Linked DNA regions of Homo sapiens: regions 1 and 2 are each linked to region 3. The links come from fine-mapping of genetic effects on gene expression. A gene starts in region 3. Each other region holds a variant in brackets. All regions are shown on one strand. Distances are between the middles of the regions. Region 1 overlaps SFI1 (SFI1 centrin binding protein). Region 2 overlaps EIF4ENIF1 (eukaryotic translation initiation factor 4E nuclear import factor 1). Region 3 holds the start of PIK3IP1 (phosphoinositide-3-kinase interacting protein 1).

The links. PIP is the estimated chance that this variant, and not a neighbour inherited with it, causes the effect.
Region 1: its variant is fine-mapped to the expression of PIK3IP1 in whole blood (TOPMed, PIP above 0.99).
Region 2: its variant is fine-mapped to the expression of PIK3IP1 in whole blood (TOPMed, PIP above 0.99).

The regions. Positions count from the first base shown.
Region 1 is chr22:31,571,160-31,579,340 of GRCh38, reverse strand. It overlaps SFI1 (SFI1 centrin binding protein), which reads right to left. Exons shown (of 33, transcript NM_001007467.3): 9 at 6,127-6,283; 10 at 3,949-4,110; 11 at 889-959. Among named protein-coding and RNA genes, the nearest start is that of MIR7109, 46 kb to the left of the region's middle. The variant T/C (reference allele first, on the strand shown) is at 3,689.
Region 2 is chr22:31,471,530-31,479,710 of GRCh38, reverse strand. It overlaps EIF4ENIF1 (eukaryotic translation initiation factor 4E nuclear import factor 1), which reads left to right. Exons shown (of 19, transcript NM_019843.4): 3 at 7,794-7,867. It also overlaps the pseudogene RNU6-28P. Among named protein-coding and RNA genes, the nearest start is that of EIF4ENIF1, 14 kb to the left of the region's middle. The variant G/C (reference allele first, on the strand shown) is at 3,248.
Region 3 is chr22:31,288,506-31,296,686 of GRCh38, reverse strand. It overlaps PIK3IP1 (phosphoinositide-3-kinase interacting protein 1), which reads left to right and starts at 4,199. Exons shown (of 6, transcript NM_052880.5): 1 at 4,199-4,412; 2 at 5,391-5,507; 3 at 5,603-5,722; 4 at 6,988-7,188; 5 at 7,294-7,372. The coding sequence starts at 4,343. LOC105372997 (a long non-coding RNA gene) reads left to right here. Exons shown (of 4, transcript XR_001755493.3): 2 at 690-746; 3 at 2,866-2,957; 4 at 3,535-3,743. RefSeq lists enhancers at 1,147-1,196, 4,817-4,866, 6,007-6,206, 7,354-7,403 and silencers at 5,427-5,546, 5,727-5,956.

The DNA of each region.
Region 1 (8,181 bases), 280 kb before region 3:
CTGTCTCAAAAAAAAAAAAAATCTAAAAAATTAGTTGGGCATGGTGGCATGTGCCTGTGGTCCCAGCTGCTTGGGAGGCTGAAGTGGAAGGATCACTTGAGTCCAGGAGTTCAAGGCTGCAGCAAGCTATGATTTTAACACTGCACTCCAGCCTGGGTGACAGAGGAGACCCTATCTCTAATAATAATAGTAATGATAATAATACTAATGCCTCAACACTGGGCCTGGTGGCACATGCCTATAGTCCCAGCTACTCAGGAGGCTGAGGTGGGAGGATTGCTTGAGCCCAGAAGTTTGAATCTAGCCTGGACAACATAGTGAGACCGCATCTCTAAAAAATAATAATAATGCCTCACAAATTGGCTAAGCAAAGCTGATTTGCCCATACTTCCCCATGCCTTAGGCTTCAATTTTCTGAGACAGAAGTGAAGATATCAGACTGGATTAGGGGTTTTCGTACTGTGCTTTGTGGAGCCCCAGAGGCTCCTGAAAACATATGAAGACCACCTCGTGTAGCAAGGGAAGGGAAGAGTAGCAGGTAGAACAGGGACGGACTCCCTGACGTGCTTCAACCACAGCATGGCTACTTTGACCTATTTTATAGGTGAGGCTTCCGCCACTCAAAAGGGGTTTTACCATGTAAAAAAAGCTCAGGACTAAATAATCTCTGAGGTTCCTTTACAGCTCCATACCCCTCTGACCCTACAACATTAGCACCTGTAATCCAAAATGAAAAGAAGGACACCCACAATGAAAGGAGGGCTTCATGACCAAAACTCACCCATAGCTGACTGCATTTAATGAAGGTGATAGGGGTCAGGGTCCCCCAAGAGTGGATACCCAAGCAAGGCTGCCAAGCGGACCCGTGCCAGGATGCAGGGCTCTTACCAGCTGGCTGTGCCTGTGGTGCTCTTCTGCCATCTCAAACTGGGCAGCTTCTTCTGCACACAGCAGCATGTCTGCCAGGAAGTGAAGGCCTCCAGTCCCAACAAGGTTCTGACCCCTACACAGTGCATTCTCAGCAAGCCACCTTGAAGGGCCGTGGCTATCGGGGATAACACACGTGCCAGGTGGGCTGAGGTCCACCTCTGTCTACTCCTGATGACCCAGGGAAGCAGTGGGCAAAGGGAAACCCTGTCAGTTACTGATCAAACATCTGGTCTTGCATTCCTCCCCTTGAATGCCCATGAGATGAGACGCAAAAAATACCTGAGATAAACTGCTATCAATTTCAGTAAACATTTAGAAATCACCATATCTAAAGCAGAATCTGCTCCTTTTTCTATAGTCTCTGTTTTGGCATCACAATCCAGTTAGATATTTGAGCTAAAAACCTTGGAGTTATTTTCAAACCTTTTCTCCTCCCACTCTCATCTAATCGGTCGCCAAGTCCATCTGTTCCCTTCCTAAATCTCTTGGCTCTCTCCATCCCCTTCTGCTCTTCTGTCCCCACCCCCAACACCCTGCAGTTCATCCAACTCGTCCCTTACGTAGACTGGTAAGTGAGCCTCCTCCCATAACTGGTCTCCCACCAGTGCTAGCCTCTCTCCGCTAATCCAGAATTATCCTTTCCAAAGCACAAATCTGACTGCACTTCTTTTCTTTTTTAAGAGACTGGGTCTCACTCTGTCACCCAGGCTGTAGGGCAAGGGTGCCATCATAGTTCACTGTAGCCTCAAACTCCTGAGTTCAAGCGATCCTCCCAAAGCACTTGGATTACAGGTGTGAGCCACTGCCCCCAGCCTCTTCTCTTCTTAAAAACCCCTGAAGCCGGGTGTGATGGTGTGTGCCTGTAGTTTCACCTACTTCGTAGGCTGAGGGGGGAGGATTGCTTAAGCCCAGGAGTTCAAGACTGTAGTGAGCTACCATTGCGCCTGTGAAAGCCACTGCACTCCAGCCTGGGCAACATGTGACCCTGTCTCTAAATTTTTAAAAGTTAAAAAACCTCCAGAGGTTCCTGCATCTACCTTCCCACCATCCCTACCTCCACAGCCCACTGGATTCTTGAATGCTTTTCCTCACTGAAATGCCTTTTCCAACCTTCTGCAGTCTTCCCCTAAGACATCAACCTTCCCAACTTCTCATCTCCTATGACTTAGACTCTGCACAAACATTACCTCCTTGGCTGAATCTCCACAGTCGCTCTCACAGGACTTCATACAAATCTTTATGATAGGAATTATCATGCCATATTTAAAGACATATTTTCATGTCTATTTCCCCCACTAGACAATGAACTATCATTAGTCTGAGCTTCCTCATATCCCAGAATTTAAGCAGGAGTTTATACAAAGCAAGACTTTGATGAACAAATAAAATGTGTGGATGAACATCCTAGGCAGTCCAAATTCTCACACTTGGGCACACAGTATGGTAGGGGTAGTGATTAAGAATATGGCTGGGTGCGGTGGCTCAGGCCTGTAATCACAGCACTTTGGAAGGCCGAGGCGGGCAGATCACCTGAGGTCGTCAGGAGTTTGAGACCAGCCTGACTAACATGGAGAAACCCTGTCTCTACTAAAAATACAAAAAAATTAGCCGGACATGGTGGTGCATGCCTGTAATCCCAGCTACTCGTGGGGCTGAGGCCGGAGAATCGCTTGAACCCGGAAGGCAGAGGTTGTGGTGAGCCAAGATTGGGCCATTGCACTCCAGCTTGGGCTACAAGAGCGAAACTCCATCTCAAAAAAAAAAAGGGAAAAAAAAGAGTTTATACATAGAGCTGGACGCGGTGGCTCACGCCGGTAATCCCAGTACTTTAAGAGGCCGAGGCAAGTGGATCACTTTGGGTCAGGAGTTCGAGACCAGCCTGGCCAACATGGAGAAACCCCATGTCTACTAAAAGCACAAAAATTAGCTGGGCATGGTGGTGGCCGCCTGTAATCCCAGCTACTCAGGAGGCTGAGACAGGACAATCACTTGAACCCGGGAGGCAGAGGTTGCGGTAAGCTGAGATGGCACCACTGCAATCCAGCCTGGGTGACAGAGCGAGACTCTGTCTCAAAAAAAAAAAAGAGGCTGGGTACGCTGGCTCATGCCTGTAATCCCAGCACTTCGGGAGGCTGAGGTGGGTGGATCACCTGAAGTCAAGAGTTCGAGACCAGCCTGGCCAACATGGCGAAACCCCGTCTCTACTAAAAATACAAAAATTAGCCAGGCGTGGTGGCACATGCCTGTAATCCCAGCTACTCGTGAGGCTAAGGCAGGAGAATCGCTTGAACCTGGGAGGCGGAGATTGCAGTGAGCCGAGATTGTACCACTGCACTCCAGCCTGGGTGACAGAGCAAGAGTCCATCTCAAAAAAAAAAAAAAAGAATATGTACACAGGAGTTAAAGGCCTAGGTTTTGAAAATCTTGACTCTGCCAATGACCTGTGACTTTAGAATACACTCAGCTCCTCTGAATCTCTTTCCTCGTCTGTAAAATGGTAATAGTGGCACCTACTCCACAGCGTTGCTATGAGGATGAAGAGGATGATGCATAATGTCTGCTACGTAGTAAAAGCGCAATAAATGGAAACTATGATCACGGTGATGGTATCACCAAGAAAAAGATAGTGGTGGCTATTTCCACCACCTAGTGGGTAGAGAAAAGCACTTAAATTGTAACACCAAAAAATGTGAATCAGGAAAGTGGGATTACCTCTGAGGGAAAAGAAAAAGAACGCAGTCAGGGAGGAGCAAATAGG[T/C]GTGCTAGGAAGGTTCTATTTTGAAAGTTGGGTGATAAGATATATAGTTGTTCATTTTATTATTTTTAAACTATATATAAGCACTCTTTTTATACACAATCCCAATTAAACAAAAATTTTAAGACTGTCAACAGAGATAAGGCTGTTTTGAATCGTTTGGCAATTGTTTCCCATGTATCTCATGACTTTCGTTTCACATGCTGCTGAGCTCATGCTGTCCTGGCTGAGGCAATGGACAGCCTGAGTATCTGAAAGGATACAGTGTTTCCAGTGAGTAAAGGCGCGCCGCAGGGCCATCTTCCTGGCCAGTTTCTCCACCTGGGCATGGTGAGCGTACAAGCTCTCCCTCCGCTCCCAGGCCTGCTGCCAGTCACAGAAGTATATCTGGAGCACAGTGACATGATGGAATCGCTCAGCCATCTCTGCAACAGAGAAATAACTTAAGTGCTACTCCCCTAAGGTTAGATGAGCTGGAAACATCTTTAAGACAAGCTGAACCCCACTACTGGCAGAGAGCAGGGGTTCAAGGCCACACACACACACACACACACACACACACACACACACGCACTAAGTTTTTTTTTTTTTTTCTTTGAGTTGGAGTCTCGCTCTGTTGCCCAGGCTGGAGTGCAGTGGCGGGATCTCGGCTCACTGCAACCTATGCCTCCCAGGTTCCAGCGATTCTCCTGCCTCAGCCTCCCAAGTTGCTAGAATTACAGGCATGTGCCACCACCCCTGGCTGATTTTTCTGCATTTTTAATAGAGATGGGGTTTCACCATGTTAGCCAAGCTGGTCTCGAACTCCTGACCTCAAGTGATCCGCCCGCCTCAGCCTCTCACAGTGCTGGGATTACAGACGTGAGCCACCGCGCCCGGCCAAAATACAAGTTTTTTAAACCTTGAAAGGTCATTAGGAATCCCTGAGCTACATCTCCTCTCTCCAAGGAAAGAGAAAAGGTCTGTGATTTTAGGGAGGAGGATGCTATAAAATCAGTTACATCAAAGGGCTGAGGCTTCTAGTTAGATACTGATGAACAGAAATGAAAACTGTTACTTTCAAAAAGGACTGTTTTACTTTTGCTTCTAAACAAATGTCTCCTGGATAGGACTTAGAGATTGAGTCAATGACATAAAATTCAGTTGCCACGCTGGCATAGGCTTTTTTGAGCTTTCAGCCAACCTGATCCTGGCTGCCAGCTTCATCTCCTTTTAATGCTAGTCAGATAATGGTCTGATGAGCTAGGGCCTGGGAAGGGGATGGGAATCAGACCTGGAATTTGAATGCTGTAATTGGAGGCAGGCATTAGTCTATAGCTTATCATACTAAACAGCTTAATGCCTTCACATTCCAGGACTGGGCAACTGGACTGTTGGTCTGGGGTCACTATCCTCCAATGAACATATTCAAACTCTCCCAAGAGACAGTGTTGGCAGCGTAAGAGATTTCTGCAGGGAGGTTTGGGTGAACGCCAGAGACCCTTAACCCAGTGTCTAGCACAGTGCTTGACTTACTTTGGTATAAACTCAATAAACTTAAGTTAAAAAGTGTACTAATGTTCACATTTCTATGTATTATTACTTCTGAATCTAATTGGGAAACAAAACCATATAAACAGTATCCAAAAAACTCAACATCAAAATCACATGCATTTGCATAACTGGAGACAAACAGAAACTATCCAAATATCTATTAATAGGAGAATGGCTAAGTATATTAAGGTAAGCCATCCTATAAAATATGAATAGTTGTTAAAAAATAACATTTACGACAAATACTTAAGATGTAGGGAAGTGTTGATTAACTGTGTGGAAAAAAGGAAGATACAAAACCATAGGTTATCAACATATTAATCAAAATAATTACAATACTTATAGCAAAATGAAAACCCTATTTAGATAAAAAATATACAGAAGAGGCCGGAAACAGTGGCTCACGCCTGCAATCCCAGCACTTTGGGAGGCTGAGGCAGGCGGATCACCTGAGGTCAGGAGTTTGAGACTAGCCTGGCCAAAGTTATGAAACCCCATCTTTACTAAAAATACAAAAATTAGCCGGGCGAGGTGGTGGGCACCTGTGATCCCAACTACTAGGGAGGCTGAGGCAGAAGAATCACCTGAACCCAGGAGACGGAGGTTGCAGTGAGCCGAGATTGCGCCACTGCACTCCAGCCTGGGTGACAAGAGCGAAACTCCATCTCAAAAAAAAAAAAAAAATCTATCTACAGATAGCTAGATAGATATAGATACAGATATATAAATAAAAGCCCAAAGAGAAATAAATGTGACTCAAGGATGATGTATTTTCCTCCTTAATCTCCTTTTACCAAAATTTCTGGAGTAGCACCATTATATTACTTCTTAGTACAGTACCACTGGCAGCAGGAGAGTGAAACTGTGACCAGATCCTCTATCTCGAGAGCCTGGAGCTTCCTACTCACCATTCTGCTGTCTCTTCACTCTGCGGACTTGCAGGTATTCAAGCCAGGCCTTTAGAAATCTCCGTTTTTGCCAGTGCTGATGATGTTTCACTGCAGAGACAACCTTTTGTTTCTCCTTCTGGACATACAGGAGCTGTTCCCGCCACTGTGACCAAGCCTGAAAACCAGAGAAGAGGCAACAGTCAAAGGAGAGGCAGGAAAACAGGGTGAAGTACAGGTGGAGAGGGAAAAGAGAAAGGCACACACGCTGGAAAGGCTGAAATTAGAAACAAGGAAGTGGCAATCCCCTAGCAGGATGATAAGCTATGGGACCGTGGGGTAAAAGGGTCTTTAAGAGGGACATTCTGCTTTCAAAAGTAATTTTTTCCTGGATTAAAAAAAAGAAGAATAAAATCAACAAGCAGAAAGCAGATGGCTGGTGCAGTGGCTCTCGCCTGTAATCCCAGCACTTTGGGAGGCCGAGGAGGGCAGATCACCTGAGGTTAGGAGTTTGAGACCAGCCTGCCCAACATGGCAAAACCCCGTCTCTACTAAAAATACAAAAAATTAGCTGGGCGTGATGGTGGGTGCCTATAATCCCAGCTACTCAGGAGGCTGAGGCAGGAGAATCACTTGAACCCAGGACGTGGAGGTTGCAGTGAGCTGAGATCACACCACTGCACTCCAGCCTGGGCGACAAGAGCGACCAACTCAAAACAAAAACAAAAACAAGCAGACAAGGAGCAGAAACAATCCGAGGGGTGATATAATTAATTCAGATTTGGGATAAGTGAGGGTCTGCCTTTTCTTCCAAAGTCAGAGGAAGCCTACTGTAAAGTAGTCCTTTTTCAGGCAGATTAGTTCCAGGGATGCCTATATATAGAAGCTAAGGGTCTACAAGGGTCTATAAATGCACACCCTTAGATCAGTGATAATGCATGTCCTAATCTGAAGACGACTTAGACAAAGACTTCATATCTTTTCTTCAGCCTGTCGCACCTCTCCTTTCCCTCCTCTCAACTGAATACCATCGTTCCCATTTCACTAAGAAAATAAAAGCAATCAAAAGGAAATTTCCTTAAGGTCCACCATGTTTAACTACCCACCTGCCCACGGGCTCTGTCTTCTCTCTTTCCTGCTACTCTGGATGAACCGCCCATGCTCCCACCAACGTCAGTCCCCTCCCAACCCTGTCCAGCTCTGGCTATCTCTCACCTTCCCGAGTTTACTGCCTTGGCAGTTCCCCTCTTACGAATCATCAGTTTTCACTCTCTATAGATTTTTGAAATCAGCATATCAATGTGCTATTATTTTTCCTATCCTAAAAAAAAAAATCTTCAAGATGTAACAACTAAAAGCAATGGGTGACCTTTAATTAGACTATGGAAATGAAAATAGCAACAATATACAGTTTTAATATGAACTGCATGTTATATATTATATCAATATTAAATTTCTTGGAATATAATAATGATATTATGGTTATGTGGGAGACCATCCTTTTTAGGAGATATACACTTTAAGATAAACTTTGTGTCTACAATTTTAGAGCAGCTCAGACAAAATAAATGTATTTATATACTTAAAGAAAGCAAATGTGGCAAGATGTTAACAATGGGTTGGTGGGGCGGGGTGGCTCACACCTGTAATCTCAGCACTTTGGGAGCCCAAGGCAGGAGGATTGCTTGACCTCAGGAGTTTGAGCCCAGCCTGGGAAACATGGCGAAACTCTGTCTCTACCAAAAAAAAAAAAAAATTAGCCAGGCATGGTGGTGTGTACCTGTAGTCCCAGCTACTTGGGAGGCTGAGGTGGGAGGATCGCTTGAGCCTGGTAGGTTGAGGCTGCAGTGAGCAGTGATCATACCACTGCACTCTAGTCTGGGCAACAGAGTGAGACCCTGTCTCAAAAAAACCAAACCAAACCAAACCAAAAAACCACAATCGGTTAAACTAGGTGAAACACAGACAGTATCCACCTTTTCTATGATTTGGTGTTTGTCAGTAATAAAAAGTTGTTGGGGAAAGACTGCCATCACAAAAATACTTTCTGAAAGGAATAAACCAGTGATTCTTAAA
Region 2 (8,181 bases), 180 kb before region 3:
GATTAAAAAAAAAAAAAAAAAAACACCTTTCCAAAAGGGTAATATCACATCCTTTCTTGAAATACTCATAAGAAGGAAGCACTCCTAGTTAGAGTGGCCACTTCCCAAGTATTCTGTCTTTAGCCATAGTTGAACGTTTTCTTTGAAAATATCCCAAAGGGGTATTTCCACGAATAATGTTAAGGGCTCTTGATGAGATGGCAAGTTTAAGAACTCTTTTCATGCTTGCTTCGGCAGCACATATACTAAAATTGCAACAATACAGAGAAGATTAGCATGGCCCCTGCGCAAGGATGACACGCAAATTCATGAAGTGTTCCATATTTAAAAAAAAAAAAGACTCTTCTCTTGTCCAGGCATGGTGGCTCACACCCGTAATCCTAACACTTTGGGAGGCCGAGGCAAACGGATTACCTGAGCTCAGGCAGCCTGGCCAACATGATGAAACCGCATCTCTACTAAAATACAAGAAAAACATTAGCCGGGCATGGCGGCATGAGCCTGTAATCCCACCTACTCAGGAGGCTGAGGCAGCAGAATTGCTTGAACGCTGGAGGCAGAGGTTGCAGTGAGCTGAGATCGCCTTGGTGACAGAGTGAGATTCCATCTCCAAAAAAAAAAAAAAATTTCTTTCGAGAGACTGGAAGAGCTGTAGGGGTGGGGACAAGAGTCATCTGTCTATGTGTGGCACTAAACTGGGCACACAGGATATATTATGTGGACAGTTGTAAAGAGAGCAAACTTTTTTTTTTTTTTTTTTTGAAACAGTCTCTCTGTGTCACCCAGGCTGGGGTGCAGTGGTGCGATCTCAGCTCACTGCAAGCTCCGCCTCCCGGGTTCACGCTATTCTCCTGCCTCAGCCTCCCGAGTAGCTGGGACTACAGGCACCTGCCACCACGCCCGGCTAATTTTTTTGTATTTTTGATAGAGACGGGGTTTCACCATGTTAGCCAGGATGGTCTCGATCTCCTGACCTCATGATCCGCCCGCCTCAGCCTCCCAAAGTGCTGGGATTACAGGCTTGAGCCACTGTGCCCGGCCATTTTTTTGTATTTTCAGTAGAGACAGGGTTTCACTGTGTTAGCCAGGATGGTCTCGATCTCGTGACCTCGTGATCCGCCCGCCTTGGCCTCCCAAAGTGCTGGGATTACAGGTGTGAGCCACTGCACTCAGCATTTTTTTTTTTTTTTTTTTTGAGACAGAGTCTTGCTCTGTCACCCATGCTGTAGTGCTGTGGCATGATCTCGGCTCACTACAACCTCTGTCTCCTGGGTTCAGGCAGTTCTTGTGCCTCAGCCTCCTGAATAGTACCTGGGATTTCAGGTGTCCACCACCAGGCCCAGCTAGTTTTTTTATTTTTAGTAGAGACGTGGTTTCACCATGTTGGCCAGGCTGCTCATGAACTCCTGACTCAAGTGATAGCTGGTCTCGGCCTCCCAATGTTTTGAGATTACAGGTGTCAGCCAGCATGCCTGGCCCAAACTGTATTGACTTAGCTCATGGTTTCTCTCTTCCCCACTTAAGTAGGGGATCTTCTTGTGCTGGGATACCACCTTAAGCATCTTAGGATCATGCTGGAAGGTAACACATTTAGTGCTGTAAACAGTGAGGAAGTTTTCTCTCATTTTTCCCTAAATGTCCACGTGGACCTTGGGCCATATTTTGAGAAACATGCTCAGTTGGAAGCAATAATTTTTAACCTCTTGGGCATTCATTGGAAATCTTTTGAAGGTGTGAACATTCACTGCAGAAATTGCACAAATGCATCATTTTCCATATGGTTTCAAATGGGAGGTCTTACACTCCTTGACACCATGGAACTGATTTAAGAAGTCTTACTTTTCAAGAACAGTAAATACTGTTTACCTAGATGTTTACAGTGACTCCCTGCCACTTTTACAACCCAAGAGTTGTCTTGTTTCTAAGCCCATTTCTCAGTGAAGAAAATGGCTCTTTATCCTCTATGGACAGGTGAGCTATGTTTTAGCCATTGTATTTGGTCAAAAGTGCGCCCTGGCACAAATAATGTTGCTGGTGTGGTTAATGTCAGTGTGTAACTAGCTTGCTACTCTGCCTTCTGCTCTTACAGGCCTGTGAAGTTTGTACATCTGTTCACTTAAGCATCACACCTATGTATGCTAAGCATGTAAAGTCAACAACGAAAACTGGAATACGGAAGTGAAAATGAGAATTTTGTTAACTCTTCTTAACTGAGAGTAGTTGGTGTTTATCACTCTGTGATTAGAGCAATAACTCTAAGAGGAAAGATTATATTGAACAAAACATTAACTTTGAATAACCTCTCAATTTCAAATTCTCTTTTTTTGTTTTTTTTGTTTTTTTTTTTTTTTTTGGAGACAGAGGTCTTGTTCTGTTGCCGAGGCTGGAGAATCTCAGCTTACTGCAACTTCCACCTCCTGAATTCAACCAATTTCTCCTGCTTCGGCCTCTCAAGTGAGGCTGAGATTACAGGCATGCGCCATCATACCCAGCTAATTTTTTAATTTTTAGTAGAGACAGGGTTTTGCTATGTTGGCCATGCTGGTCTTGAACTCCTGACCTCAAGTAATACGTCCGGCCTCTTTTTTTTTTGAGACAGGTTTTCTGTCACTCGGGCTAGAGCGCGGTGGTACAATTACAGCTCATTGCGGCCTGGATCTCCTGGGCTCAACCAAGTCGCCTGGACAATAGGCATGCCACCATGCCCTGCCTTTTTTTTTTTTTTTTTTTGAGACAGGGTCTCCCTCAAAAAGGGTGCAGTCTTGGCTCACTGCAACCTCTGCCTCCCAGGTTCGCAATTCTCATACCTCAGCCTCCCAAGTAGCTGGGGCTACAGGTGTGCACCCCCACACCTGGCTAATTTTTTTGTTTGTTTGACACAGAATCTTACTCTGTTGTCCAGGCTGGAGTGCAGTGGTGTGATCTTAGCTCACTGCAACCTCTGCCTCCCAGGCTCAGGCAATTCTCCTGCCTGAGTCTCCCAAGTAGCTGGGATTACAGGCGTGCCAGGCTGGTCTTGAACTCCTGATCTTAAGTGATCCACCCGCCTTGGCCTCCCAAAGTGCTGTGATTACATGTGTGAGCCACCGTGCCCAGCCCATATTTTCCTATTTTTAAACTAATATCCTTTTTCTGTTCAAGGATTCTATCCAGGATACCATATTATGTTTAGTTGTCCTCTCTCTTTAGCCTCCTATTTTCCTTTTTTTAAGACTGTTACTTCTGTTAAAGTATTTTTTGATTCCTC[G/C]TCAATAGGACCAAAATTAGGCTTTTCTGGATGTTTTGTGGTTGTGTTAAAGTATTAACCTTTCCCAGGTGACTCCTAAATAAATAGGTAAAATCATTATAGAGTTCAGCAAACAGCTGTAGTGGTAATTGAGAACACCTATTGGGATCCCTGTTACCTTTGGAGTTAAAAGTTTCAAACAAAACACCACTTAGAAACTTCCCTACATTAAGAATTTACACATTTAAGCGTGAAAGATTGTCTTTGATTGAATAGCACATTAGGGTTCTTAGTATCTGCATGGGGTAGTAAGGGGATATGTGATAATCTTTAGTTACTTTTAAGAGTAAAAAATTGCTTTGCAGTGGTTTTTCCTGTAGCATTATGTATAAGTATTTCCTATATTGCAAGGTCCTTCCTGTTTCTACTAGAAAAATTTTAAGCCCTCTTGTCCTTAGGATTTCTGTGTTACAGTAATATCTGATATTTTCATAATTACTATTGCTCCATCCTCCCTGAACCCCTCCCCCCAGCCCCAAAGTTGTGCTAACCCTACAGATCTGACACCATGTTTGCCCTGAAGATTTCTCTGGAGTCTCCCGTGGTGTGTTTTGTTTTTTTCTTTTTTTGAGACAGGGTCTCTGTCACCCAGGATGGAGAGCAGTGGTGCGATCGCTGCAGCCTTGACCTCAAGTGACCCTCCCACCGCAGCCTCCTGAGTAGCGGGGACCACACTTGGTGAATTTTTTTTTTTTTTTTTTTTAAACGGAGTCTCGCTCTGTCACCCAGGCTGGAGTGCAGTGGCGCGAACTCAGATCACTGCAACCTCAGCCTCCCTACAGGTAGCTGGGATTACAGGCGTCCGCTACCACACCTGGCTAAGTTTTATATTTTTAGTAGAGACAGGGTTTCACCATGTTGGCCAGGCTGGTCTCAAACTCCTGGCCTCAAGTGATCTGCCTGCCTCAGCCTCCTATAGTGCTGGGATTACAGGCGTGAGCCACTGTGCCCGGCCCACTCGATGAATTTTAAAATATTTTTTGTAGAGACAGGTGTCTCCTTATATTGCCCAGGCTGATCTTGAACTCCTGGACTCAAGCAGTCTTCCCGCTTCAGCCTCCCAAAGTTCTGGGAGTACAGATGTGAGCCACTGGACCTGGCTGACTCCTATCTTTACTGGTGATTTATAGGTTGTATGTTCTTTGACAGTTTTTTTTCAGAATTTTGAACAGCCTTTAGGTATGTCTTTGTATTTGGAACTGTGTTTATCTCAGTCTTACAAATTTTTATTCGTATTTCTATCCAGTTATAAGACAGGTAATTGATAAATAAATCCTAAATAAATGCAAATGCCTGATTGATATCCTGGTCTTAAAACTGAAGTATCATATAGTCCTAAGGCGGCATCTTGTCCTGAAGAAAACATTTAGATGCTTCAGTTTTCTGTAAACACTAGAGAATTCATGGTATGCTATACCCAGTGATTCTTGTGGGCTGATTGAGCAAATCTGTCCCTCCATCCTCACCCCAAGATGTTGAATCAGTGATCTGAGAAGCAGTGCACATTCTCCTACTACAAGGCCTGGGATGGGAGTGTTGCCAAAGTCATGGCATAGTGGTATGTGCTTTTTTGCAAGGCAGTTGCAGCATTTTACTGGTGCTGAAAGTTTCGGAATTGCTTTTTAACTTTATTATAAAAAATATTTCAAAGTATACCAAAAGGAGGCAGTAGTTTGTTGTATATATGGGTAGATATGTGTGTTAGTGTGCATGTGTGTATATATATGTGTGTATATGTAAGTGTGTATATTTCCTAACTCTACTGAAAGGGCCTTCAAGCAAATGAGGATACCCAGTTCCCAGACCTTGGTGTTTTATGCAATTCCTCACTTAAAGAAACTAGGATTTCTCAGAAATAGCTGATTCCAGGGCTGGGACAGGATGAATACAAAATAAGCTAGAACGTATGACAGTCTTTAGGAAAAAAAAAAAAAAAAGATGGCATGTTGAAAAAGACACATGGGCCAGTTTGAAGAGGCACCCACTGGCAAAATCTGGGACAGTTTGAGCGCCACATAATTGAGGACATTAATGAGTTATAGACCAACAGAAAAACCAGGAGTCAGCCGGGCACGGTGGCTCACGCCTGTAATCCCAGCACTTTGGGAGGCTGAGACAGGCAGATCACTTGAGGTCAGGAGTTGCAGAGCAGTCTGGTCAACGTGGTGAAACTCCGTCTCTACTAAAAATACAAAAAAAATTAGCCAGCCATGGTGGTGCATGCCTGTAGTCCCAGCTATTCGGGAGGCTGAGGTGGAAGAAGTGCTTCAACCCAGAAGGCAGGGGTTGCAGTGAGCCAAGATTGCGCCAGTGCACTCCAGCCTGGGCGATAGAGCAAGACTGTCTCAAAAAAAAAAAAAGAGGAAAAACTAGGAGTCTGTGAGTCCATACCAATAATACATAGGTATATAAACAGGGGAAAGGAGGACTTGCCTTTACAGTATGATGCCAAGTGCTGGCTGGTAAATATGGAGAGTGGAGAGAGGGCTAGAGTGGCAAAATGAAGAGTGGTTTGGTCAAGAATCATTAATGGATGCTAACTTTAGTGGAAAACTGAAGACCAAGATATTTGGGTGATTTTAAAGTGTCTCCCCACAGATTGCATGCTAAATGCAAATGGGAAAGCAGTAACTAAATAGTAGAGAAACTAGAGAATACCTTGACCAAATGATCCAAATTAGCACCATAGATAAAGGACAGATGAACATCATGGCCTCCAGAAGTGACGGTCTGTGAAGGACACAGCACCTCTTCAGTTAGTATTCTGCCCCATGGATATTTAGGCTCAGTCTATCATGAGAAAACATCAGACCAACCCAAAATGAATAATGTTCTTTTACAGAAAGGGACTATATTTTCTAGAAATGTCACTATCATAAGAGACAAAAGTTGTAGAAATGTTCTAGATTAAGGGAGACCAAAGAGATACAACAATCAAATATCTGATTCTAGACTGGATCCTGTTTTGGAGGGGGAAGATCAATATAAAGGACATTACTGGGTCAATTTACAAAACTGGAATTGGGAAGGTAGATTAGAAAAAAGTATTATCAATAGTTGTAGTTATAAAAAAAACTGGCAGTTCTTCTCAACTTGGGTCTGCAGAAGTCTTCATGCCCTGAGGCATCCGTTATATGTGAGGGATTAGCCTCTCTCCTGTGCATACCAGCTAAGTACATCCTTGAGAGAATGGGAAAATAGTTCACTCAGGTCATTTTCTGTAGGGCTAAATTCTCTCATGGAGCTGGATAACAGGCTGTAAAGGAATATCTTCATTCTTAGGAAATAGGCACTGCAGTATTTAGGAGTAAGGCATCATGACTTATGCAATTTACTCTCTAGTCAAAAAAAAAAAAAAAAAGCTCGCTCATATGTGGAAGCCAAAAAAACTTGGCTTCGTGGAGATAGAGAATAGAATGATAGATACCAGAGTCTGGGAAAGGTGTGTGGGTGGGATGGCAGAATACAAAGAGGTTGGTTATATGGATACAAACATGCAGTTGAAGGAGTAAATTCTAATGTTTGATAGCAGAGCAGAGTGGCTGTGGTTAACAAGTGTATTGTATATTTCAAAACAGCTAGAAGGGAGGACTTTAAATGTCTCCAAAACATAGGAAGGATAAATACTTGAGGTAATTGACACCCGAGATATCCTGACTTGATCATTACACAGTTTATACATGTAACAAAATATCACATATACCCCATAAGTGTATACAAATGTCTGTATCAATTTTTTTAAAATTCTGCAAAAAAGTAAATGATAAATAGGGAGAAATGTTAATAGGTACATAGTATATGGATGTTTTTTGTGTTTTTTCAGTCTTGCAACATTACATTTAAAAAAAACTATCGCCCCCCGGCCCGGTTGCTCACACCTGTAATCCCAGCACTTTGGGAGGCCGAGGCGGGCAGATCGCCTGAGGTCAGGGGTTTGAGACCAGCCCGGCCAACATGGCAAAACCCCGTCTCTACTAAAAATACAAAAATTAGCCAGGCATGGTGGCGTGTGCCTGTAATTCCAGCCACTTGGGAGACTGAAGCAAGAGAATTGCTTGAACCCAGGAGGTGGAGGTTGTAGTGGGCCAAGATTGTGCCACTGCACTTCATCCTGGGCTACAGAGTGAGATTCCATGTAAAAAAAAAAAAAAAAATCCCCTTGTAAGTTGTCATCTAATGCATTGAAAATTGGTAAGATTAGGCAGAGGTTTTATCTAACACTAAAGTTTCCTTGCCTTGATGAGCTTTCAGTGTTACGAAATGTTATTCAATAGCAATTATGAGAGATTGTTTTAGCCAGAAACTGATCACTTTTAAGTTACTGGATTATTCTGCTTGAGCTTGTGAGAACCTCAATGTACTCCAGTCCTTTCTGAAATAAGGCAAGATGTAAATAAGAATTGTGTGAAGTGTTTAAGATGGACACTTAGAATTATTCAGAACAGAAGTTTAAAGTGTGTGGCCTAAGAAATGTAATTCAAAATGACTATTTGACTTCTCTTTTTAGGAAGAACTCTTGGATATAAAAGAACTCCCCCATTCCAAACAGAGGCCTTCATGCCTTTCTGAAAAATATGACAGGTATGTGTGTCATTCTAGTCCTTAACTACTTCTAGTCAATAACTTTTTGTTATACCAAACTTGGTAAATTAAGAATTGTATTGTTTTGAAGTTTTCTGGTAGAATTATAAGTGAAAGAGGGATTTCGAGAGGTAATAAGATGGGTTTCAACTACCTAGGAATGAAACTAAAATTAAAAGATGACCTGGTCAGAGTCACATAGTCAGAAAGCAGAATTAAGACTTGAACCCGACAGGGCATGGTGGCTTATGCCTGTAATCCCAGCACTTTGGGAGGCCAAGGCAGGCGGATCACGAGGTCAGGAGATCGAGACC
Region 3 (8,181 bases):
AGCACATCATATAAAGTGAATTGCTGGAGCCAACTCATTAGGTCTTATTCCAAAGATTTTTACCAACACTTTGGCCCTCTTTTGCTGACAAAAAAGGATTCTTAAGCCTTTTAACAGCTTTATAACTTCCTTATTAGAGTTCACTCACTAACATATCCTGTTAACAAAATGAAGTGCCCATCCTTCTTGGGAAACACTCTGGAGAATATTTCCTGATTTCATCGCACAGCTTTGTCTCTGGATTAGTAATCATCTAATACGAAACTGAGGATATGAGTATTATGTTTCACAATGTTGTCTTCAAGGATATAAACAACTCAAAATTTAAGTATTTGAGTAGCACTGTATCACATTATTATTGCCGTGATATTTTCAGAAGAAATCTGAAGTCTGCGCTAACTACAGGCCATAAAATATGGCCATCTTGCCCCAATAAATGGAGCAAAGTTCAAATCTGGATCATCAGAAAAAGACAAGAGGCACATTTCTAAACCAAATCTGATTGCCTTGAGGAAGGAAGGTACTGAACCTGTTAGAGTACATCTCTGAAGGACTGAGAATCAAGTCCTTCATTCCCTCGCCCCCTAAAAAAATCCAATCAATCATGCTGATAAATGTCTTAGTTACAGGGGAGAAAAAATAGACATGACTAAGCTGAAAAAAATCTTCTGGCTTTGTATCTTTTCTAGGCAGTGCTGTTCCTGATAAGACACATGACACAAAATATGGTTTTGCTGAGTATCAAGGTAAGTTAGGGAAAATAGTATTTTTTAAATAGGAAAATTAGATGACAACAGCAACAGGTAAAGAAGCCTTGGGCTTCTGAGGTAGAAATACTAGCATCCCTACATAGGCATGGTAGATAATCTGAAACTAGTACAAGTGCTGGCCTGTTATAGCCTGTCTCTACCGTAATCAGAGGGAAAAGTATTACAATCCAGCAAAAGTAGCCCTTCAAAATCTAAGGAGGAGCATTTCATCAGATATCAATAAATGAACCCTCGCTGCATACAAAGGCAATACATTACGTGCTGAGTGACCAACTTCAAAGAACCTTCTGCTGTTCTGAAATTTAAAACTACTCTCATTTCCTCAAGCCTGTATTTTATGTAATGAAACAAAATGCACATCATATGTCTCCTGCTGCACTGTAAGAGTAAACATAGGACCCCTCCCACCAAAAATTGTGCAAAGAGCCCTTCCCCTTCAGCTTTTTGCTATAGAAATATCCTACTACTTCCCTGAAAATAGTATATGCTTTCTTTGGCAAGTGGAATATCACCCTGTTACTCTCTCCCTTACTCTGCTTCACTTTTTTTCGCATAACGCTTAAGATTACCTAATATTTTACATGTTTATCATGTCTCTCCCAATTAGAATATAAGCTTCATGAGGGCAGAGATTTCAAATATTTTGTTCACAGATGTATTCCCAGTATCTACAACTATATTTAGCATGTAGCAGATTCTCAAAAATATTTGTAAAATTAATAAAATTTAAAAATCCCTATTATATTGGAATTGTTAAATTAAAAAAAAATTTTGGCCAGGCGCAGTGGCTCACACCTATAATCCCAGCACCTTAGGAGGCCAAGACAGGCGGATTACGAGGTCAGGAGATCGAGACCATCCTGGCTAACACAGTGAAACCCCGTCTCTACTAAACAAAATACAAAAAATTAGCCGGGCGTGGTGGCGGGCGCCTGTAGTCCCAGCTACTCGGGAGGCTGAGGCAGAATGGCGTGAACCCAGGAGGCGGAGCTTGCAGCGAGCCGAGATGGCGCCACTGCATTCCAGCCTGGGCAACAGAGCAAGACTCTGTCTCAAAAAAAATAAATTTTTTTTTTAAGACAGGGTCTCTCTTTGTTGCCCAAGCTGGAGTGCAGTGGCATGATCACAGGTCACTGCAGCCTCCAACTCCTGAACTCAAATGATCCTCCCACCTCAGTAGGTGGGACTACAGATGAGTGCCACCACACCTACCTATTTTTTTTTTTTTGTAGAGATGAGGGTCTTATTATGTTGCCCAGGCTGGTCTCAAACTCCTGGGCTCATCCTCCCACCTTGGCCTCCCAAGTGCTGGGATTTACAAGTGTGAGCCACTATACCTGGCCAAATTTTAAAATGCTACCGTATCTGTGTATGAATATGTGTGAATAAATTTACAGACTCTAGGGTGTAATTCACAGGGTAGACCAAGTCAAGAGTCAGAGGATCAGAAGCTTGGGTGGGGAGATAGGAGAGTGATTGCAAAAACAAAGCAATCTATCTTATTAAATGGACGAAAGGGATCAAACATTATCAGTAAACTATTTTAAAGAGTGAATTAAATGTATCTCTCTATCCTTTCTATGAGTGTAGTGAATTCAGATTCACCTCAGATTAGTTGAATTGACACTAGTTTTCTTCCCTGATAAAGCTTTTAAAATTTATTTAGTAAAGTGGCCAGGCATGGTGGCTCACACCTGTAATCCCAGAACTTTGGGAGGCCAAGGTGGGTGGATCACCTGAGGTCAGGAGTTTGAGACCAGCCTGGCCAACATGGTGAAACCCCATCTCTACTAAAAAAATACAAAAAAAAATTTAGCCAGGCGTGGTGGCGCACACCTTTAATCCCAGCTACTTGGGAGGCTGAGGCAGGAGAATTGCTTGAACCTGGGAGGTGGAGGTTGCAGTAAGCCGAGATGGTGCCACTGCACTCCAGCCTGGGAGACAGAGACTCTGTCCCCCCCACCCAAAAAAAAATTAGTTGTTTTCCTCCTTAAATTACAGCCTGCAAGATTGAAACAGAGTTTCCCCATTTCTATTTTGGGATCTGACTGAGTCACAAGGTAGTCTTGACGAATCACTCTGCTCTATCTCTCAGTTTACTGAGGCTGCCTGGGAACTTGAGCTGTCAGCCAAACAGGAAGAAGGGCCCTTCTGCCTACTCCAAAAGGCCTCAGTCAAATGGATATGGTGAGATTTAATGATGGATATAAATTACAGCAAATGGATTTCCTATAGGGTGAGGGAAAAAAAAAAAAGCAAACATTTTACTTAAATTCCTCTATACAATTTAGGGCTGGCAGAAAGGGTAGACTATTACAATGTAGCTGAGCAAATTTTTCCATGTTTGCATAACATGTGTTTTCAACTAAAGATACTCCTTCTATAGTCCTACTATATACAACACCCCAAAAAACCTCAAATGTAAGAAAAAGCAATGTGACAGATTTGACCCTGGCCAAGTTACACTGTTTTTTTTTTTTTTTTTTTTTTTTTTTTTTTTTAAGTGTCAGTGTTCATAAAGGCCCTTTTTCTTTTTCAAGGATGGGTATAAAGTGTTACTCGGCCGAACGCGGTGGCTCACACCTGTAATTCCAACACTTTGGGAGGCCGAGGCAGGTGGATTACGAGGTCAGGAGTTCAAGACCAGTCTGGCCAACACAGTGAAACCCCCGTCTCTATTAAAAATACAAAAAATTAGCTGGGTTGTGGTGGTGTGCCCCTGTCACAAGGTAGTCTTGACGAATCACTCTGCTCTCTCTCTCAGTTTACTGAGGCTGCCTGGGAGCTGTCAGCCAAACAGGAAGAAGGGCCCTTCTGCCTAACTCCAAAAGGCCTAAGTCAAATGGATATGGTGAGATTTAATGATGGATATAAATTACAGCAAATGGATTTCCTATAGAGTGAGGGAAAAAAAAAATCCAGCTACTCCGGAGACTGAGGCAGAATTGCGAGAACCCGGCAGGTGGTTGCAGTGAGCCGAGATTGTGCCATTGCACTCCAGCCCGGGCGACAGTGTGAAACTCTGTCTCAAAAAGAAAAGAAAAGAAAAAAAAAAAAACTATTACTCCACTCCCCACCAGAAACTCTTATTTTTTCCCCCCTATGTGGTCATGAATTCCTCCTGGGTGCATAGCTCCCTAAGTTGTTCTGTGTTTTAGTGCTTATAATTTCCCACATCCCATGATGCCCCTTGATAGAATTATTTTTTCTGTACTCACACAAATGGAAACAGAAGAGATGAAAAACCCTGGGGATGCGGCCTCGCAGGTCTCAAACTGATCGGCTGCTAAGCACAACCTGCATATCTCTTGGCTGAGTTCCTTTCTTGGCTCAGTTAGATTTTGCATGACCTAGGAGGCTTAGGACCCAGGGGGCGCCTTTCAGCTGAAAAACAGCTCGCGCTGCAGCAAGCTAGCTGGGAAGCTCCCAGTTCTAAAGAGAGGCTGTTTACCAGAACAGCATAACAAGGGCAGGTCTGACTGCAAGGCTGGGACTGGGAGGCAGAGCCGCCGCCAAGGGGGCCTCGGTTAAACACTGGTCGTTCAATCACCTGCAAGACGAAGGAGGCAAGGATGCTGTTGGCCTGGGTACAAGCATTCCTCGTCAGCAACATGCTCCTAGCAGAAGCCTATGGATCTGGAGGTGAGATTACAATCTTTCCTTTCCGCAGCAACTTCATGAAACAGAAGGGGTAAAGCCCCCTATTTCCCAAACAGGGCCAGGATGACAGGAAACGAAGCGTTTAGCCGGTTTCTGTTGTCCCGTGAAAGCTTTTCCACCCCTCCTTTCCTTGTCAGGGGCTTGCAGCTCCATCTTTGCCATTAAGAACAAAGGCAAGAAGCCACTTTCTCTCTGCCTTTCCTTGCTCATGAGTGGATGGAGCTTGGGGGTTCATCTCCCCTACTCCCCAAGTCCTGTTCTTTCTAAGCCCTTTGCATGGTGTGGTCCTCCTTCCCCAGCCTCCTTCTGTGGTTCTCCTGCAGAGGGGAGTGGGAGCTTGGAGTCTCATCCAGTCAGCGATGAGGCCGGTTTCCTCCGTTTGAGGCTGTCTTGAATCTTTTGCCTGACGGAGTCAAGGCTCCTGGAGAATTCTCCTGGGAGGGAGTATTTGCCTTTTAAACGGGCAGAAGGTGGCCGTATCCGTGAAGGAGGAAACACCGGAGTTTATGTAACGTGGCCATTACAACACAGGGACAAATGTCACGTCTGGGCGCCCCCCGTCCCAAAACTCCCAGCTCCTCAAAGGGACCCTAAGCCAGGCCTCCTCCTCTCCATCTCCTCCTCCAAAGTGGTCACAAGTTCAAGAGTAACAACGCTTTGCACTTCTGCAGCGCTTTCCAGGTTTCAAAAATAAATAAAACCTAACAGTCTCTGAGCGTTGACTGGGGGACAGGCACAGGCTGGGGGCTTCACACCCTGAGGTGTGCGTGGAGTTGGGGGGGGGGGGTGCGTGGGGCGTGGGGGTGTTGCCACGAGAGGAGAGGGAGGCCCAGCAGGGCCCGGGGTCCCCTAACCAGGCTGAGGTTCAGCCCGGGTGGTCCCGGCTCCCCTGTCCGCCACGCTGGGCGTCTTCCGTTCGCTGCCCGCTATTCTGTGTCCGGGGGCTTCTTTTCCTCACAGGCTGTTTCTGGGACAACGGCCACCTGTACCGGGAGGACCAGACCTCCCCCGCGCCGGGCCTCCGCTGCCTCAACTGGCTGGACGCGCAGAGCGGGCTGGCCTCGGCCCCCGTGTCGGGTAAGTGTCCTCCGGGGGACGGCCCCGGGGCTGGCGGGCGGCGGCCGCGTTCCCGGTGCCAGCCCCGGCACACATTTCCTTCTCTCCTCTCTTAGGGGCCGGCAATCACAGTTACTGCCGAAACCCGGACGAGGACCCGCGCGGGCCCTGGTGCTACGTCAGTGGCGAGGCCGGCGTCCCTGAGAAACGGCCTTGCGAGGACCTGCGCTGTCCAGGTACCTGCCCGGGACCCCGGGAATCCCCGCTCCTGGCGCTGACAGGAAGCGGCTGAGACACTCGTGGCGCACGTGCGGCCGCGCGATGCCGGCCGGCCCCGCTCCGCCTCCGCGCCGTCCGATTGGCCAGGGCTGTCTCCAGGCCGCGGGGCTCAAAGCCTATTGGCCGCCGCCGCCACTCGTATGAGCTCATCCGCCGCGAGCGCTTGTAAACAACTGCGCGGGGCGAGGCTGGGGTGAGGCTAGGTCTCTCCGCCGCGCGTCCTGAGGAGTGGCTTTTGGCCCCTCAGCGTTTATTGACCGTTTGCGGAGCGTCTGCAGTGTGCTAGACCCACACTGCTCACAACCCCAGCTCCCCAACCTCCCCTGACACACACCGCGGGAAGAAGTCGTTTGAGGCATCTGAGCTTCAGAGAAGTTAAGCGATTTACCAAAGGCAATGGCAGGGGACAGATTTGAATTCACGTTTCTTAGATTCCAGAGCGCAGGCTTTTTGCTCCCAAAGCAGCAAGAGAGTTTTCTAGGTTTAAATGGGATAATCAAAATAAAGCATTTATTTTTTATTTTTTATTTTTTGAGACGGAGTCTCGTTCTGTCACCCAGGCTGGAGTGCAGTGGCGCAATTTCGGCTCACTGCAACTTCCGCCTTCCGCGTTACAGTGATTCTCCTGCCTCAGCCGCTTGAGTAGCTGGGATAACAGGCGTGCACCACCACGCCCAGCTAATTTTTGTATTTTTAGTAGAGACGGGGTTTCACCATGTTGGCCGGGCTGCTCTCTAACTCCTGACCTCAGGTGATCCGACCGTCTGGCCTCCCAAAGTGCTGGGATTACAGGCGTGAGCCACCGCTCCCGGCACAAAGTAAAACATTTTACCTAAGGACTGGCACAGAGCGTACGCTTAGATGTGAGCTGCTCAAAGGAAGCATGGGTTGTTTCCTGAAGTAGAAGTGGGGGGAATCCCCTGCAGAAGAACGCAACCGAGAGGGGCCTTGGGAAATAGCAAGGATTTGGACAGATAAAGACGTGGGAGGTAGGAGAGAAGCCCTTCCCTACGGCCTTCCTCTCTCATTTGCCTTGTCCCTGAGATGGTTCAGCCCTCTCAGGCCTGATCTTACCTCTGGGGCAGAATTTGACTTTGGGTTGTGTGTGGGGGGAAATTCTTAGGTGACCCACCTTCATCTACCCTAACACTCAGGCCAGGTTCAGCTGTGGAATTCACTCAGGGCAGTCCCTGATGAGAGCTGTTTCCCACCTCATCTCCAGAGACCACCTCCCAGGCCCTGCCAGCCTTCACGACAGAAATCCAGGAAGCGTCTGAAGGGCCAGGTGCAGATGAGGTGCAGGTGTTCGCTCCTGCCAACGCCCTGCCCGCTCGGAGTGAGGCGGCAGCTGTGCAGCCAGTGATTGGGATCAGCCAGCGGGTGCGGATGAACTCCAAGGAGAAAAAGGACCTGGGAACTCTGGGTATGACGGTCCCCCACCCCTGCCCTCGTTGGGATTCATCAAGAGATGTCATTTGCTGATTGTCTAGGGTGTGGCTAATGGGACCTTGTGTCCTATCCTTGGCAGGCTACGTGCTGGGCATTACCATGATGGTGATCATCATTGCCATCGGAGCTGGCATCATCTTGGGCTACTCCTACAAGAGGTCAGTAGCTTCTCTTCTGGGCCCTCTTAGGAGGAGGGGAGGAAGGTACACAAAGTCAAACTTTGTGGCTTTCTTACCCAAAAGGAAGCAAGATGTTGAAAATCAGCTCAAGATGTAGAGACTTGGTCCTAGTCTTTATCTGCTGACCTTGGACAAACCCTTTCCTTTGGTGCCTTTACACCTCACTTAAAAGCCTTGTGAGGGATGTTCTTGTTCCGCATTTTACAAATGAAGAAGCCTCTGTCAGAGACTTGCTCAAAGTCACATAGCCTAGGAGTGGCAGAACCTGGATTCAGACCCAGCTCTTTTGATAGCAAATTCCCTGCTGTCTGATCCCACATGCCTGGCATTGAAGTGAGTGGCACTGCAGAAATCAGGCTTGACACTGATTGCAGGGACCTTAAGACCAAATTCTTTCTGTGAGTTATAAAATTCTGCTACTAGAAAAGGTTTCCAGCCACTGTTGCAGTTGAGGCTTAAATTTCCTGAGCTATAAGCAGTGGGATCTCCTCTGCTAGGGAAGAAAAAAGTGAGTTGGAGAACAGAAAGTCTGTTTGCCACTCTTCACCACGTGTGAGAAAGCCAAAGAGGCTACTTGTGAAACTCAAGGACATGACCTGTGGCTGGGACAGCAGGAGAAGAATGCTTATTTTGAAAGGTCCCACGAGATGTCCGTCAGTGACTGGTGCATGATGGTAAGCCAGACTGGCATTCATCTTTACAGCACTGGCTGATTGTGGAAAATTATTTGCCATTCTTGGGCAAAATCGGGGGATTTGACTTCTAGCCCTGGGTGTCTGTAATATTCT